2 separate regions of the Homo sapiens genome follow, and region 2 is linked to region 1. The links come from fine-mapping of genetic effects on gene expression. Tissue or cell type: transverse colon. Region 1 holds a variant in brackets; the other region holds the start of a gene. All regions are shown on one strand. Distances are from middle to middle.

Region 1 (8,000 bases):
GAGAGTGGAGTACAGGAATATAAACATCAGTATAATTGTGACCTGAGGTCCCCAAGCTACACCCTGTGTCTGGAGACCTGAGGTCTGAAGGACTGTTTCTGCTCATTATATTCAGCTGGAGCCCCACCTAGGTTGTTGGGACCTCCAAGCCTTCCACACTTCCTGGTAGGAAATTATTCTTTCTCCTCAGTGAGTAATATCTAGAAAAAAATCAGCAGTCTCCACCCTCCCCAGATGTTATCACACTGGAATTATGGAGTTGGGTGGAGACATAAAAGCAGCTGAAACTTTTAGAGCAATCTGGCTCCAGCATCTGTCACCTCATTGATTGCAAGGGCTGATTCAGGTGATTTGGCCCTCAGTTCTCTTCCTCTTTCATCTCTCCCTTTAGGTTCTTCCCAAAGCCATGTGTTCAAATAAAGTTAAAGAGAATGACCTAGATGAAGATCTCCCTGGGAGAAAAAGAGTAATAAAAATGAAAAACAATAGCTGCTAAATAATGGGAGTGTACTAGCTGCCAGGCAATGTGGTGAATGCTTTCCAAACATTTTCTCTTCTAATCCTTATAATGGCCCTAGAGCTAGGTATTGTAATTATCTTTATCAGCAGTGAAAGCCTAGAAAATACAGCAACTTGCCCTAGAGCACCCAAATAGGAAGTGGCTGAACCAAGATTTCAAATTTAACCTGTGTTTTCTAACTCTTAAATAAACATCTTAACAGGAACATTTTTGGTAGGTCAATATTTTCTATGTGCCATTGTTCTTACTATGTAGTGAAAAAGGCAGCTTTCAGATGGTCCTGGCTTCAGTGATGGCTCCCAGGATTCCCAGCGACATTCAGCAAGATCTTCCCTGTGAGTGGCCTTCATAGATGCTTCGGTAATGGAGGCTGCTATTGATAGAGGTTCCTTAGCAGCTGCTCCACTGAGGCCCTCATTGCCCCACCCACTTTGGGCTTCATACTGGGGGTCAGTGCTAAGTATAAGGTCCTGATGGCTAGGATAGATGAGGAAAGCTATTTACTCAGCACAGTAGCAGGACTCTGGCTCAGGAGAGGGCCCATATCATGGTCAAAAATAAATTGGGAAAAGTTTAAACTAGGGAAGCAGTGTCTAGCAAAAGGCCAAAAAGATGAGAAATGACCTTCAGCAGACAAACAATTACAAGGTCAGTAGACACAAAGTATGCGAGCAGTTGAGAGCGTGGATGAAAGGTAGATTGGAACTGTATTACCATCCAGTAATTCCACTGAAATGGAACAGTGTGGAGAACTGGGAGTAATTAGTTCATTCGTCAGTTTGTCCGACTTCTCTTTGTTTCTTGTAGGGGGCTGGTTCCATAGAAAAGGATGGGTCTGTGGAGTAAATGGTCATGAGTAGTGCTAGCCACACACATTCTTTAACACTTCTGAATGCAGCAGGCCAGCTGGTCATTACTGTTACTGCCCCCTCATGGGAGACCAAATATAGCTATATCATTCCTCCTCCAAAACTGCCTTCTGGCAAAAGTTATCTCTTTTAAGAATTGTGTGCATTCTTAAATTGCATTAAGGGAAGCAAACATATGGAACAAGAAAGCACCTCACTTAGTTCCATTTGCTAAGCCCTTTTGCAGACCCACTGACCCTTCCTTAATTCCAAATGAAATCTCAAATGCTATAAAGAAACCCGCCAAATGGGTTACAGCAAAGACTTTTTTACACCCTACTGTTATGTTCAGAATTGGAAAAAGCTGGGGATTTGGCAAATTCCAAAATGTTGGGTCATATGAAAACTTTTTTTTTTGAGACAGAGTCTCGCTCTGTCGCCCAAGCTGGAGTGCAGTGACGTAATCATGGCTCACTTCAGCCTCGACCTCCTTAGTTCAGGTGATCCTCCTGCCTCCACCTCTGGGGTAGCTGGGACTACAGATAAGCACCACCACACCCAGGTAATTTTAAAATTTTTTGTAAAGATGGTGTTTCACCATGTTGCCCAGGCTGGCCCTGAACTCCTGGGCTCAAGCAGTTCACCAGCCTTGGCTTCCTAAAGTGCTGGGATTATAGGCATGAGCCACCACACCCAGCCCCATACGAAAATTTAGTCTCAGAATTAGCCTTTGCATGCGTCACCTGTAAGTTAATCAGAATGTTACTTTCAAAAGTTCCCTGCAGGTGAGGAAGCTAAAAGGTATTCTTGTATTTTTTTAAATGAAACTTCATAATAGAGGTGTAAACAGAGTCCATTCTCCCCAGCCTTAGAATCAGACAGCTTGAGTTTAAAACCCACTTATGAGCTTGAGCATACTACTGAACATAGAGTCACTTGTCTATGCCTCAGAGTCCCCATGGTCGAATGGAAAATACAGTGCCTACTTCAAAGTGTTATTGTGAGGATTAAATGAGATAATATATGCAAAGCACAGCGCCTGGAACATGGAAAGTGCTCCAGAAGTTTTATTGTTATTAACATTATTATTATTGCCACCATCATCATTAAACTTGGTAATTTTTACTCTCCCCAATCCTTTAGTTACTTTTTCAAACTTCTAGTTTTTTGCTTGGGCTCCATCTAATTGGCTGTGAGTCAAAAGAGAATTCACCACATCCAAGTGTTTTCTAAAGAATGTCTTTGGAAAATTCACAACTGATCATTTTGATACCAGCATCTAAGGTTAGGGCTACCTTATCCTTCATCACCTTCTTGTTTTATTCATAACACCACGATGTGGACTATTGATAAAATTATGTTTCAAAGATAACTAGCTTATTTGAAGCCATCTATAATTTCAGCCCAAACTGACTAATTAGGCTAACTTTCAGAAAGTTAAGTAAGTGTCTAATTCTCAGTTAACTTACTACCTACTGAGTAAAAATGTGCTGCCTTTTAAAATCCACAACTAACCTCCCTACTCAAGGCAAACCCCCTAGTTCTAATATTTGAAGTATTTAATGAACAAGCCTTTTTGGGGGTCCTCTTGTAGTTAAAACATTTATTTTTCTCCTTTTTTTTTTTAACTCTGTTTTTTGTCTTTCTTTTTTTTTTTTTTTTTTTTTTTTTGAGACAGAGTCATGCTCTGTCGCCTAGATTGGAGTGCAGTGACACGATCAGTCACTGTAACCTTGAACTCCTGGTCTGAAGCGATCCTCCCACGTGTGCCTCTAAAGTGTCGGGATTACAGGCATGAGCTACTGTGCTCAGCCTC[TA/A]CTCTGTTTTCTACCTTTTATTTGTTGCAAAAGCAACATGTTTATTTTAACAAATACTGGTCTTCCTCATCTTACTCCCCTGAGATTTCAATGTTAAAAGTTGATTTGTGTGTTTCCACGTAAGTCTTTATAACAAGCTTCTGCTGACACTCCTTGGCCCAGCTTTCCATAAACACATCCATCCCTACCTATTAGGTTGAACTGTACAAAATTGCCATTTTTATAGGTCCCCACTATTCTTTAATACCAAGCCTCAAATTTAGCCAGACACTAAATGTCCTGTTTTATATACACGCCTTATTCATTCCTTCTTGGTTTTGTTTTTGTGGCTTCACTTTTGCTGGATGGCCTCCACCCCCAACCCCAGCTCTACTCTGGCTGGACATTTTTTAACTCTCCTTCAAAGGTGTACATCCTGCAACTTCTTAAATTCCCTTTACATTCATTGTCTACATCACATAGTCTGATTGCCTATATAATACAATTTCGTGTTTTAGTATTTATATGCTATTTAATACAGATGCCACCTGTTTTGCTGCTTTTATTTTCTCTGGTTGCTTGATGTTCTATTACCTTAACTAGACTTTAGTGCTTTCTAGAAAAGGACAATGTGTAGTATATCTGTACTTATTCAAGTGCTGATCTAAGGACATAGGATGTAATGTAAAAGTTTATTCAATGACTATTTCAAAATACAAAGTCTCTCTTTGTATAAAGTCATTCACTAATACTGACATTGGCTGATACTTCAGACTGGAGATTCTCGGTAATATTACTTTTTCTTGATAATTAATTTTGATTATAAGAGGATTTAATATCATGGAAATAAATTATGCAAATGAACTCAGACCCTAGGTTCACTTCCCAGAACAAACCGTATTCTGAGAATACTTGTGGTGCCAAAATTTAGAGTGAAACCCCAGACTATTAATGATGCTCAAGTTACTTTACTCCAACACAATAAGTACTCAGTGATTTGTTACGGAAATTCAATTAAGTCTTCTCAAGTATTTTTTTTCTTTTCTTTTTTTTTTTTAATTATACTTTAAGTTTTAGGGTACATGTGCACATTGTGCAGGTTAGATACATATGTATACATGTGCCATGCTGGTGCACTGCACCCACTAACTCGTCATCTAGCATTAGGTATATCTCCCAGTGCTATCCCTCCCCCCTCCCCCCACCCCACAACAGTCCCCAGAGTGTGATATTCCCCTTCCTGTGTCCATGTGATCTCATTGTTCAATTCCCACCTATGAGTGAGAATATGCGGTGTTTGGTTTTTTGTTCTTGCGATAGTTTACTGAGAATGATGATTTCCAATTTCATCCATGTCCCTACAAAGGACATGAACTCATCATTTAAGAAAAAGTCCAATAAAATATCAGTCACTATTTTTAGATCTTCATTCTCAATGTTTGTAAAGCTAATACTAATATTAGATTAATGTAATTTTATCAATATTGATAATTACTTAGTATACATTGTGAACTTTGTTTTTTGGATGTCATTTAAAGGGTTATTTTCATGAGTTCCTAAGAAATAATTTAGGCCTTTAAGGTTATTTAACCCTTCAGTAGAAAATAGTTTCCTTGTTTAAGAAAATGATCTCCATCTAGTGGACAAATTTTTATATTACAGTATACAAAGAAAAATATTAAAGCCCCTAGAATATCTCATATCAAGCACTTCCTGACCTATTAATAAATGTTTTGGTTTTAGTGCTAATATTATGGCTTAAAAGTTGTAAGATTTAAAAATATCATAACTATCTAAATGACTTAAGGTATTTAGCAATATTTGTTTCAAAACTTATAGTGGAGTGTTAAGACTTGCTTGATTTAATTGGAAAAATTATAATTAAAGAAAAAATTACTGATTTATACAAATTTGGTGTTTACTCAGTTGAACTGAAAAAAACTAAACCAAAACTCACACTTCTGTATCTCTTACATTTCTGTTCATGCACAGGAAGGAGGGGGTATTTTCTTTTTTAAAGTGTAGCAATAAGAATATCTTGATATTAAAGGGAAATAAACATAAACATTTCTACAGGCATTCACATTACTAGGTCCTCCTCATGCTGAAAAGCTGCCATGACTATCTTCTTAGAAGAGAAATCTACTTTGCCAAACCCCCACTATTTAGAAGTTTTTAATGTCTTCCAGTTGTGTACTAAATACCTTCAAAAACCTTCTTAAATACTACTCTTCATGAAAACTTCTCAGATATCCCAGCCTGAGTTAGTCATTCATCCTTTATTTTTGTATCTTAATGCACTCATATTAAGTGCTTAATAAATGCCTATTTAAGCATATCCAAGGAGAGTTTGCCAAAGATCCCTAATGTATGTCTATTGAATGATTAGAGACCATCCTCCCCTTCCAGCCTTCCTGGGAATTGACAAGGTTTCACATACATATGTGCCTATCCTATTCTGGTGAAACAGATGTCCCCTGTTTGGGTGCCACATATATTTGTGGTTTATATAATCATGCAGTAGAGCTGGAAGGACTTTAGGAACAATCGATGATTCAATGCAGTTAGCTCAGTGACTGGTCAATTAACTTTTCTAGGACCTGGTATCCTCGTCTGTAAAGTGAGTCTGTTCGACTTGACAATCTCTCATTGTCCTTCCTGAACCAAATAAATATATCTATAAAGAGACACAATTCTAAGAAAATTTTAAGTTGGAAAAACATATTTACAGCTGCTCAAGATAATGAGTTTTCCCTCTTCTGTTTATTTGATGGATTATTTCGGAGCCACTGTTATTTGATCACAGATTCAAAAGTGATCCATGAAACATCTTCCAATCTTAGAGTCATAACTCTATTTATTAATGACTCCGATAAAGAAAATAAAGGAATGTTTTAAAATGAGCTAGTTAATAGTTTGAATAAAGATTCTAATGGGGAAAATATTAATGACAGCAAAACTTGAATTCACATGTTTATTTATTCTTTCAACAAGTTTTTCTTTAAAACCACACACCTGCTGGGCTATCATAAGCTATCACCCTCCTCTCCTAAGAACACATGAAAGTTGACTTTATTTTAATACTGGTTGATGTTTCACTAGAAAGGTTCTTTGTGGAAAGTTTATCTAGATTATAAGGACTATGACGTTAAGAACTGTGTGTGTAGATTTTTTCCCAGCTCTAAAATATGTATTGCTGAGCACAGTGCCTTTTATTCATTTAATCATTTACTCAAGACACTTGGGCACAGTTTTCAATGTGCCAAGAATACGCTGAGTCTCCATTTGTAGAGAGCTCACAATCTAGGAATGGAGACCGGGTGAAAAACATTTTCAATTCATTGTAAATTCTGTCATTAGGGAGTGGGAAAGTGTCTTGGGAGCGTAGAGAAAGGGCCTTTCATAAAGCTCTGATGTACCAGGGTAGCCTTTCAGGTGCAGGCTAAGTCTCAAGGATGAGTGACAGTTAGGCAGGGGAAAGGGGATTTGATTATTTAGGGGAGCAGGAGGTGAGGTGGTGATGGCCTGTGAGAAGGAGATAGTGCCTCAATATGAGTTGAGCAAGAAGTACCCAATAGCTGAGGATGGCAAGTTGAGGCTGGGGGCAACTAATTGCAATTGAGAGCAGATGGTTAGACTGGCAGTCTGGCAAAGAAATTTTGACTTCATCCTGAGAGCAATGGTAAGTTACTGAAGGGTTTTAAACTGAAGAATGACACTGGAAAATGGATTCAAGACACTAATATAAAGGTTGTTATAATAATATAGGTGAAATTTGATGGAGACCTGAATTTAAAATATTGGTAGTAGGGATGGAAGGAAGTGGGTACAATAGAAATTAATGCTTGGATGGATGTTATAGGGTAGGAGTGTGGAGGGAGAAGCCCAGGTTTGGGAGAACAGCATTAGGCACAAAATGGGTATTTGTTGAATCGAATTCAAATATTTGATGAATTACTGTGTATTTGTTATTTTCCGAAAGGAATTTTGTACTTAGAAGATTATGTTTTGCAGAGTGTTTCCCTTTTAACTGAAGTAGAGTTTGGAAAAACCTGTATCTTGTATCTGGTCAGTTAACAACAGTATCCAGGAGAACAAGAATGTGAAGTCAATGTGTTTTTCTTTTATGTATTTCAATATTATCATATTTTTATGGCAGAAATTAGCTGTAATTTTCATTCCTGCTAATTCCACTGTCAGTTCCTCAGCTGACGCTAAATGCTTTTTGAAAATATGAACATGTGAATGTTCACAGCAACATAATTCCTTCTCCTTCCTTTACAGTTTTGATGTGGACAATGGCACATCTGCGGGACGGAGTCCCTTGGATCCCATGACCAGCCCAGGATCCGGGCTAATTCTCCAAGCAAATTTTGTCCACAGTCAACGACGGGAGTCCTTCCTGTATCGATCCGACAGCGATTATGACCTCTCTCCAAAGTCTATGTCCCGGAACTCCTCCATTGCCAGTGATATGTAAGTACAAGGGCAGGCAAAGAGAGAGAAAACCGAGTAAATTTATATCTAGAGCTGATGACATAATAAAACTAATGACTTTTGTTCAACTGTATCACTCTCCTCCAATGTAGAAAGAATATGAATAAAATTATACAAGCTAGAAATGAATGGTAGATTTAACCTGAGTGCACTGTCACTCTTGATTAACACACACACACACACACACACACACACACACACACGCATGTATTTATTTTCCCAGAAAATACTTTATAGGAAAACTGAGAATTAAATTTTTAATGGAAACTAACACTTAAATCATTAGCTTATATTTATGTAGAGCCTGAGTTTTAGCTACCTAACTACATGGATATTTTC
Region 2 (8,148 bases), 760 kb after region 1:
TCTTTTTAAAAAAAATTTTTTTATTATACTTTAAGTTCTGGGATACATGTGCAGAATGTGCAGGTTTGTTACATAGGTATACACGTGCCTTGGTGGTTTGCTGAATCCATCAACCCGTCATCTACATTAGGTATTTCTCCTAATGCTATCCCTCCTCTAGGCCCCCACCTCCTGATAGGCCCCAGTGTGTGATGTTCCCCTCCTTGTGTCCATATGTTCTCATTGTTTAATGCCCACTTATGAATGAGAACATGCAGTGTTTGGTTTTCTGTTCCTGTGTTAGTTTGCTGAGAATGATGGTTTCCAGCTTCATCCATGTCCCTGCAAAGAACATCAACTTATCCTTTTTTATGGCTGCACAGTATTCCATGGTGTATATGTGCCACATTTTCTTTATCCAATCTATCATTCATGGGCATTTGGGTCAGCTCCAAGTCTTTGCTACTGTGAACAGTGCTGCAATAAACATACATGTGCATGTGTCATTATAGTAGAATGATTTATAATCCTTTGGGTATACACTCAGTAATGGAATTGCTGGGTCAAATGGTATTTCTGGTTCTAGATCCTTGAGGAATGGCCACACTGTCTTCCACAATTGAACTAATTTACACTCCCACCAACAATGTAAAAGCGTTCCTATTTCTCCACATCCTCTCCAGCATTCGTTGTTTCCTGACTTCTCAATGATCGCCATTTTAACTGGCGTGAGATGTATCTCACTGTGGTTTTGATTTGCATTTCTCTAATGACCAGTGATGATGAGCTTTTCTTCATGTTTGTTGATAGCATAAATGTTTTCTTTTGAGAAGTGTCTGTTCATATCATTTGCCCACTTTCTGATGGGGTTGTTTTTTTTCTTGTAAATTTGTTTAAGTTCTTTGTAGATGATGGATATTAGCCCTTTGTAAGATGGATAGATTGCAAAAATTTTCTCCCATTCTGTAGGCTGCCTGTTCACTCTGACGATAGTTTCTTTTGCTGTGCAGAAGCTCTTTAGTTTAATTAGATCCCGGCAAATGGGCACGGTTCTTTTAAATAAAAACTTATTGACAAATGTAAGAATTGGGCTTAATTTGGCCAGGGTTTTTATCATTTGTTGATGTGTCATGCATCATTTTATATATGAGATTATATCCATAGGATAAATTCCTAAGTAAGAGAATACATTCATTTCTAAATTTGATAGATTTGGCCAAATTACTTTTCACTGAAATTATATCAATTTCCATTCCCAACAGCAATATATGGAGTGCTGCTTCCTCAACACTTCAGCAGTTGAGCATGTTCACGGCAACTTTTGAGGGTTTTGCCAATTTTGTAGGAAAGGGTGCCTCAGTATATCTTTCATTTCAATTTCTCTTCTGAAGAGTGAAATTGAGCAAATGTAAGAACCATTTGTTTTCTGTTGGATAATTGGTATTTTATCCAATTGTAGGAGTTTTTATATAACAGGAAGATAAGCTCTTTCTCTGTGATGAGTTGAAAATAATTTTTCCAGTGTTATTTATCCTTTGACTTTATTTGTGGTGTTTTGTTATTTTAAATCAATGAAAGGGTTTTGTTTCTATATAGTTACATTAATGAATCTTGCTTTTTTTTTTTTTTTAGGGATTCTAGATTTTGTAAATAGTTGAAAGTTCTACCACATTCAGGCTATGAAAGAATTCTTTCATATTGTCTTAAAATTTCACGTATTTCAAACTTTCATTTGCTTGAAAATAAGCCAGATATGAAGCATGGATCCATTTTTTCCTTCCTACTGGTTACCAAATTGACTCCATGATATTTAGTAATTAGTCTACTTAATAGAAAGCGCATTTATTTCCTTTTTTGTTCTATAGACTACAATTTTGGTTCTGTCCACATGATGGCACCACAACCCCAAAAAAATCATGTTCTCAGTCGGAAAGAAGACAACATAAGATTTACACAGCGTTAATATTTTATTAAATGCCTCCATGTTGTGGCAGACAGACCTGAATTTCACATGGAATGTTCAACAGTTTATCAAATACTGAAGTCCATTTGGTAAAGATACATACCATAGTGTATGCTAATCAAAGAAGAAATTGACATTTAAAAAAAAATCATGACAATCTATTCTTCAGTTTTTTATCTTAGGCCACAAATGAATACACATACACATACACACATATGTATACATATACAGTTTATTATCAACCATAAAGACATGGTGTGTAAACTAGCTTTGATAAATTCTAGTAATATTTTCTAAACCTGCAAGCCTTCTACATCTTAGAGAGTAGGTTTGCACAAATCTGGGAAGCAAAGGTCACCCCTGGGCTTATGAATAAAGAGGATAATTACGTAATTCTGAATTTCCACCCCTAAGCCCCACCCCTTATTCCATCCCTGACAATCTTGGGGTTAAAGTCTATTGTCACTTATGAGAAACATGCCTGGACTTGCCCTGCACTCTTTAAAGAATCAAAAACGGAAGTGACAGCAAAGACTTTCCCTTTCTCCTCGCTAATGGCAAAGCCTTTCCCTTTCTCCTCTCTAATGGCAATAAGCCTCTTTTCCACATTATGCTGGAAGTATTTGAGACACAGTATTTTTGTAAATGTTCGATTAATGTTGATACCACACATACCTAAATTTGACAGTGGACTGCAGCAACTTTTTGTATGTACCTTCCAGGGATTCAATAATCTGGTATTCTAAATTTCTCTGGAATTTAGCTTCAAAAAACTATTTACCATATCCTGTTAACATAGGTAAAAAGATTCAAGTGTGCTGCTAATTAACCTAACCTCGATGATCTAGTAAAAATATACAATAATTACCTAAGTTCTCCAAGCCTCATCTATAAAATGGGAATAATAATGTAGGAGATGAGAATATGCCACCCCAAATATGGCCCTGGGATAAAGATTATTTTAAGATAATTATTTTGAGAACCAGCAGACCCAGGAAATGCTCTAAAAATGGCATATTACCCTTTCGTAAGGGAAACGTACATTCACTAAAAAAAAAAACAACAAAAACAAAAAACAAAAAAACCCCACAAAACTCCATTTGTAAAAGTGTCTCCTCTGTACCAGGAAGAATGACTCTAAATCATGAAAAACTTATCAATGAAGAAATAAGAAACCCCACTCCTGTTTACCGTACATTTCCTGGTCATGATTCCTTAACTTGCCTGCCCCACTCTTTTCTTTTGGTTTAGCTAAAGATAGTATTTAAGCCCGATTTTAAACCATCTCTAATTTTCCTGGTTATCTCCCATGTATATATGAGACGTATATGTTAATAAGCTTCTTTGTTTTCTTGTTAATCTGTCTGGTTACAGCGACCCAGGCCAAAACTTTGAAAGGTGGAAAATTATTTTTCCTTCCTTACAATATTTCTCTCAGAATTGTTGTAGGATGAAATAAGGCATTTAAAAATACTGCACAGTCCTCAATAAATGTTACTCTATCGTAATTAGAACAAGAAAAACAAACAAAAAAACGTGTTCCTAGATTAGTCAAACTGCACAGCAAAATCTGGAAATGGGAAACTAAGCTGTGTTTGCACTCACTGGCCTACGCTCCTCTCTTCATCCTACCAATCTCCCTACCCCAGAAAGTCTCAGATTGACTCTCCAGGAACCAGGGCAGCTCATGAGCCATCTCAACAGATGCATTCGGAAGAAGTCATAGATGACTCTGATTGGAAACTCACAATCGGCATCGATGTTTAGTACTAGTAACTGTCAAAGGCCCACGGTTGTCAACCGCTGCCCACTTCGACACCTAACGGCATTCCGGAACATTCCACAAGATGGCGCCCTTGCTTTCCAATCTTCGGGCTACGGGCGGAGGACGCCTTGCCAGGACGCCGACCTCGCTCTGCAAGGTTCAGGGGCCGACCTCAGACAGAGGCTCGCTCTAGGGGCATGGGCGGGGGCCAGACGGGCCTCGAGTGGGATCCTGGCACGGTTGGCCGATCGGCCCGGGATCCCGGCTGCGGGCCCGTGTCTGCCCTAGCGCGATGGGCTCGAATGCCCGGCTCCACGAATCCCGGCCTTTCACCCCCACGGCCTCTCGGCACTGCCCCAGCTAGACACCAGCGAGCTCGTCACAGCGCGGGCAGGCACTGCGGGGCAGCTGCAGACGAGCCCTGTCATACGGCCGGAGGAGGCCTCGCCTGCCCGTGCGGCGGGCTCCGGGCACCCTGATACCTTGACACAGGAGGCCCCGGGCGGCCGGGAAGGGCTGTGCGGGGGAGGGACTGCGTCTACACCCGCGCCCGACTCGCTCGGGTCACGGCACTGCCCTGCCACCAGGCGGCTGGGGCGGGGGTGAGGCCAGGCGTCGGCCCTCGCGATTCTGTTTTGTACGCTGAGGCTCGGAGCCTTCGAAGAACGGGACAGCGGGGCCCACGGACGGCTCTGAAGGCCTTCCCGCGGCCGCAAGAGATCTCGGCGGCCGGCGTTTGAGGCGCGCGGCTCCGCTGGGAAGCGAGACCCGGGTGGCGGGACAAGACTTGCTTCCCGGCCACGCGCGCTCGGCCGGCCGTGGGGCGGGGCATAGGCCGTGACGTGATGTCGCGTATCGAGTCTCCGCCCCCTTCCCGCCTCCCCGTATATAAGACTTCGCCGAGCGCTCTCACTCGCACAAGTGGACCGGGGTGTTGGGTGCTAGTCGGCACCAGAGGCAAGGGTGCGAGGACCACGGCCGGCTCGGACGTGTGACCGCGCCTAGGGGGTGGCAGCGGGCAGTGCGGGGCGGCAAGGCGACCATGGAGCTTTTGCGGACTATCACCTACCAGCCAGCCGCCAGCACCAAAATGTGCGAGCAGGCGCTGGGCAAGGGTTGCGGAGCGGACTCGAAGAAGAAGCGGCCGCCGCAGCCCCCCGAGGAATCGCAGCCACCTCAGTCCCAGGCGCAAGTGCCCCCGGCGGCCCCTCACCACCATCACCACCATTCGCACTCGGGGCCGGAGATCTCGCGGATTATCGTCGACCCCACGACTGGGAAGCGCTACTGCCGGGGCAAAGTGCTGGGAAAGGTGACAAGCGGAGGGCGCCGGGCTGCCGGGCGGGCGGGAGGTCTGTCCGGGCGACCCCAAGCCGGGCAAGCCCGCGGGGTCCCTCGCCCGCCGCTTCCGGGTTTTTCGGGGGTCCGATCCCAGCGCGAGGTGGGCTCCTCACCTGCCCTCTGGCTTTTGTGCGCCGGCAGCGCTGGGGATCGGCTTTGCATTCTTAGCCTCAGAACTGTGTGTCTCCCGCAGCCCAGAGAAATGCATCTTGAGTCTGGAAGCGAGGGCTTTCTACATCAGACCTCTCTCCCTCTATCTGCTCCCAGGGAATTTTCCTGACAAGTCTCATCAGAGATTATTTTTCATGTCTCCCCGTTCCAACTCCCTCCATAAAGCTCCCCTTTATAAAAGAAGAAGAGAAACTGTTTGAACTTGCTGTTTCCAGCAATGCATTTCTCTTCATGAGGGAGCTTTAACGAAGTCGAATGCCTCCCTCTGTCCACCCTCCTCCATTCCTCAATTTTTTTTTTTTTGCTTTTCTTTCTTCCCATTTATTTATTTATTTAAAATATCTGCCGTCCATTTTTGTGCCATCCTCAATTCCGTCTCGGCTTTGTTTCCTTTCAGGGTGGCTTTGCAAAATGTTACGAGATGACAGATTTGACAAATAACAAAGTCTACGCCGCAAAAATTATTCCTCACAGCAGAGTAGCTAAACCTCATCAAAGGGAAAAGGTGCGTATGACTCTTGAGTAAAGTATTTTCTTTGTGTGCAAGGATGGCCCTTCCCTGTTAGGAAAATGTCTTCTGCATGTGTAATCACTGGCTTTTCCGAGGTGACTGGAAGCTAATAAGCCTTACCTTGCTTTTTCATTTAGATTGACAAAGAAATAGAGCTTCACAGAATTCTTCATCATAAGCATGTAGTGCAGTTTTACCACTACTTCGAGGACAAAGAAAACATTTACATTCTCTTGGAATACTGCAGTAGAAGGGTAAGTGTCAACTCCTATTTGAGAACATTTGCTTACCCCGAATTAACATGGTATTCAAAGAGTATTTTATCTGGGATTTTAGCTGTGGCAGCACTTACACTGCAAAGTTAACTTTCATTGCTCATCCTGCAAAGGGAAACCAGTGATTTTGATAACTGTTTTGACAGATTCTCTTTTTTCCTTCTCCTCTTCTTAGTCAATGGCTCATATTTTGAAAGCAAGAAAGGTGTTGACAGAGCCAGAAGTTCGATACTACCTCAGGCAGATTGTGTCTGGACTGAAATACCTTCATGAACAAGAAATCTTGCACAGAGATCTCAAACTAGGTAAGTCATTGACGCCAAAAGCTGAGTTTTGTGTTAGAGTTCTTTTTTCTCTCTCTGTTTTTTTTTACATATTAATGTTCTTAATTGGGATCTCGTGTCTGCAATCTTGCTTTTGAATGGGCGACTTTCATATAACAATTGGCTGCCTGGCTCCAAAGTGGATGTGTGTGTACTTGGTTAGAACGCATTTTCAAAGGGATTCACATTTTGTTTTGTTTATCGTCTAGGGAACTTTTTTATTAATGAAGCCATGGAACTAAAAGTTGGGGACTTCGGTCTGGCAGCCAGGCTAGAACCCTTGGAACACAGAAGGAGGTAAGAGTCAGAAAGATGCATCCTAGTAGACTTTTGTGGAGACCAAATATGCCTTCATTATTTTGCATTTAATGTTTCAGAGGTCCGGTAATAAAATCTATAAATCATAGCAATGTTAATTTAAAGAAATACTTATTAAATGCCCACTATGGACTAGACAGAGCACCCTGTGCCTCTAAATTGATTATGAAAGCAGTCAATGAAGTCTTTTCTTGGCTTAAAATGTATAAAATGCCACGACGTCCCTGGCTTTAGTTGGTTAACAACACTTTGCATGTGGGCTAAAACAACGTGTGTGCATTTTTAAAAATTACCAAAACTCATTTGGTCAGATCTCAATTGAATTTTCAGATGCCAAAAGTCAAATGTTTCCAAATAGAAATTCAGTATAGATTTTAAGATTTTGTTTAAGATTTTGTCTCCCATCAAGTCATGTCAAGAGAACCAAGTTTAAGTAGTGGAATAGTTCCTAACACGATCTCAATATTTTGTCTTTCCAGAACGATATGTGGTACCCCAAATTATCTCTCTCCTGAAGTCCTCAACAAACAAGGACATGGCTGTGAATCAGACATTTGGGCCCTGGGCTGTGTAATGTAAGTAAATGCAGCAGAATAATTAAAAAGCAAATTCGGATTTAGATTTTAACACTTGAAAAGAGTTGCTTTATGACCATTGCTAAAGATGTGTTTCTTTGCACACAGGTATACAATGTTACTAGGGAGGCCCCCATTTGAAACTACAAATCTCAAAGAAACTTATAGGTGCATAAGGGAAGCAAGGTATACAATGCCGTCCTCATTGCTGGCTCCTGCCAAGCACTTAATTGCTAGTATGTTGTCCAAAAACCCAGAGGATCGTCCCAGTTTGGATGACATCATTCGACATGACTTTTTTTTGCAGGTTGGTGCACTATCTTTTTTTTTTAATTACCTGGTATTGATCCCAGTTACCTGACAGGTTACTGAAGGCTTTTTCTAATATTCCACAGGGCTTCACTCCGGACAGACTGTCTTCTAGCTGTTGTCATACAGTTCCAGATTTCCACTTATCAAGCCCAGCTAAGAATTTCTTTAAGAAAGCAGCTGCTGCTCTTTTTGGTGGCAAAAAAGACAAAGCAAGATATATTGACACACATAGTAAGTTAACAAGACTTCTTTTCCTTTTTCGTACCCAATATTATATTTAAATTTGGTAAATTAGTTAAAAGAGAATTTTATATTAGCATAACTTGGCCATATTTGCGTATTCTTAAATGTTGATATTTATAGCATAATAAATCCATACCTTGAATTGTGATTGATAGCTTTTTATTTTGCAAACACTAAAGAGGGCTTTTGGGGGTAGCTGCAGCTAAAGGCAAAGGTAAAATGCTATTTTTGCCCAGGATGCTCATAAGTTGGTCAATAATGCAAGAAGGAGAAAATATGACTAACCCTGTTCCTACCTTGTTAAGATAGACTAATGTTTGTAATTCTGTTTCTTGATATACAGATAGAGTGTCTAAAGAAGATGAAGACATC

Direction of the effects. Alleles are on the strand shown, and positions count from the first base shown. SD is a standard deviation of normalised expression in the study named.
For the expression in transverse colon of the gene that starts at base 4,623 in region 2, A is the low allele of the variant in region 1 and TA is the other (small effect, 0.24 SD a copy in GTEx).

What was found. PIP is the estimated chance that this variant, and not a neighbour inherited with it, causes the effect.
Region 2: PLK2 starts here. The variant in region 1 is fine-mapped to the expression of PLK2 in transverse colon (GTEx, PIP 0.93).

Annotation. Positions count from the first base shown.
Region 1 is chr5:59,215,417-59,223,416 of GRCh38, reverse strand. It overlaps PDE4D (phosphodiesterase 4D), which reads left to right. Exons shown (of 15, transcript NM_001104631.2): 2 at 7,449-7,640. Among named protein-coding and RNA genes, the nearest start is that of PDE4D-AS1, 180 kb to the right of the region's middle. The variant TA/A (reference allele first, on the strand shown) is at 3,185.
Region 2 is chr5:58,456,561-58,464,708 of GRCh38, reverse strand. PLK2 (polo like kinase 2) reads left to right here and starts at 4,623. Exons shown (of 14, transcript NM_006622.4): 1 at 4,623-5,019; 2 at 5,617-5,724; 3 at 5,868-5,984; 4 at 6,181-6,310; 5 at 6,538-6,625; 6 at 7,126-7,221; 7 at 7,330-7,528; 8 at 7,617-7,764; 9 at 8,120-8,148. The coding sequence starts at 4,750. RefSeq lists silencers at 4,126-4,305, 6,333-6,627 and an enhancer at 7,279-8,148.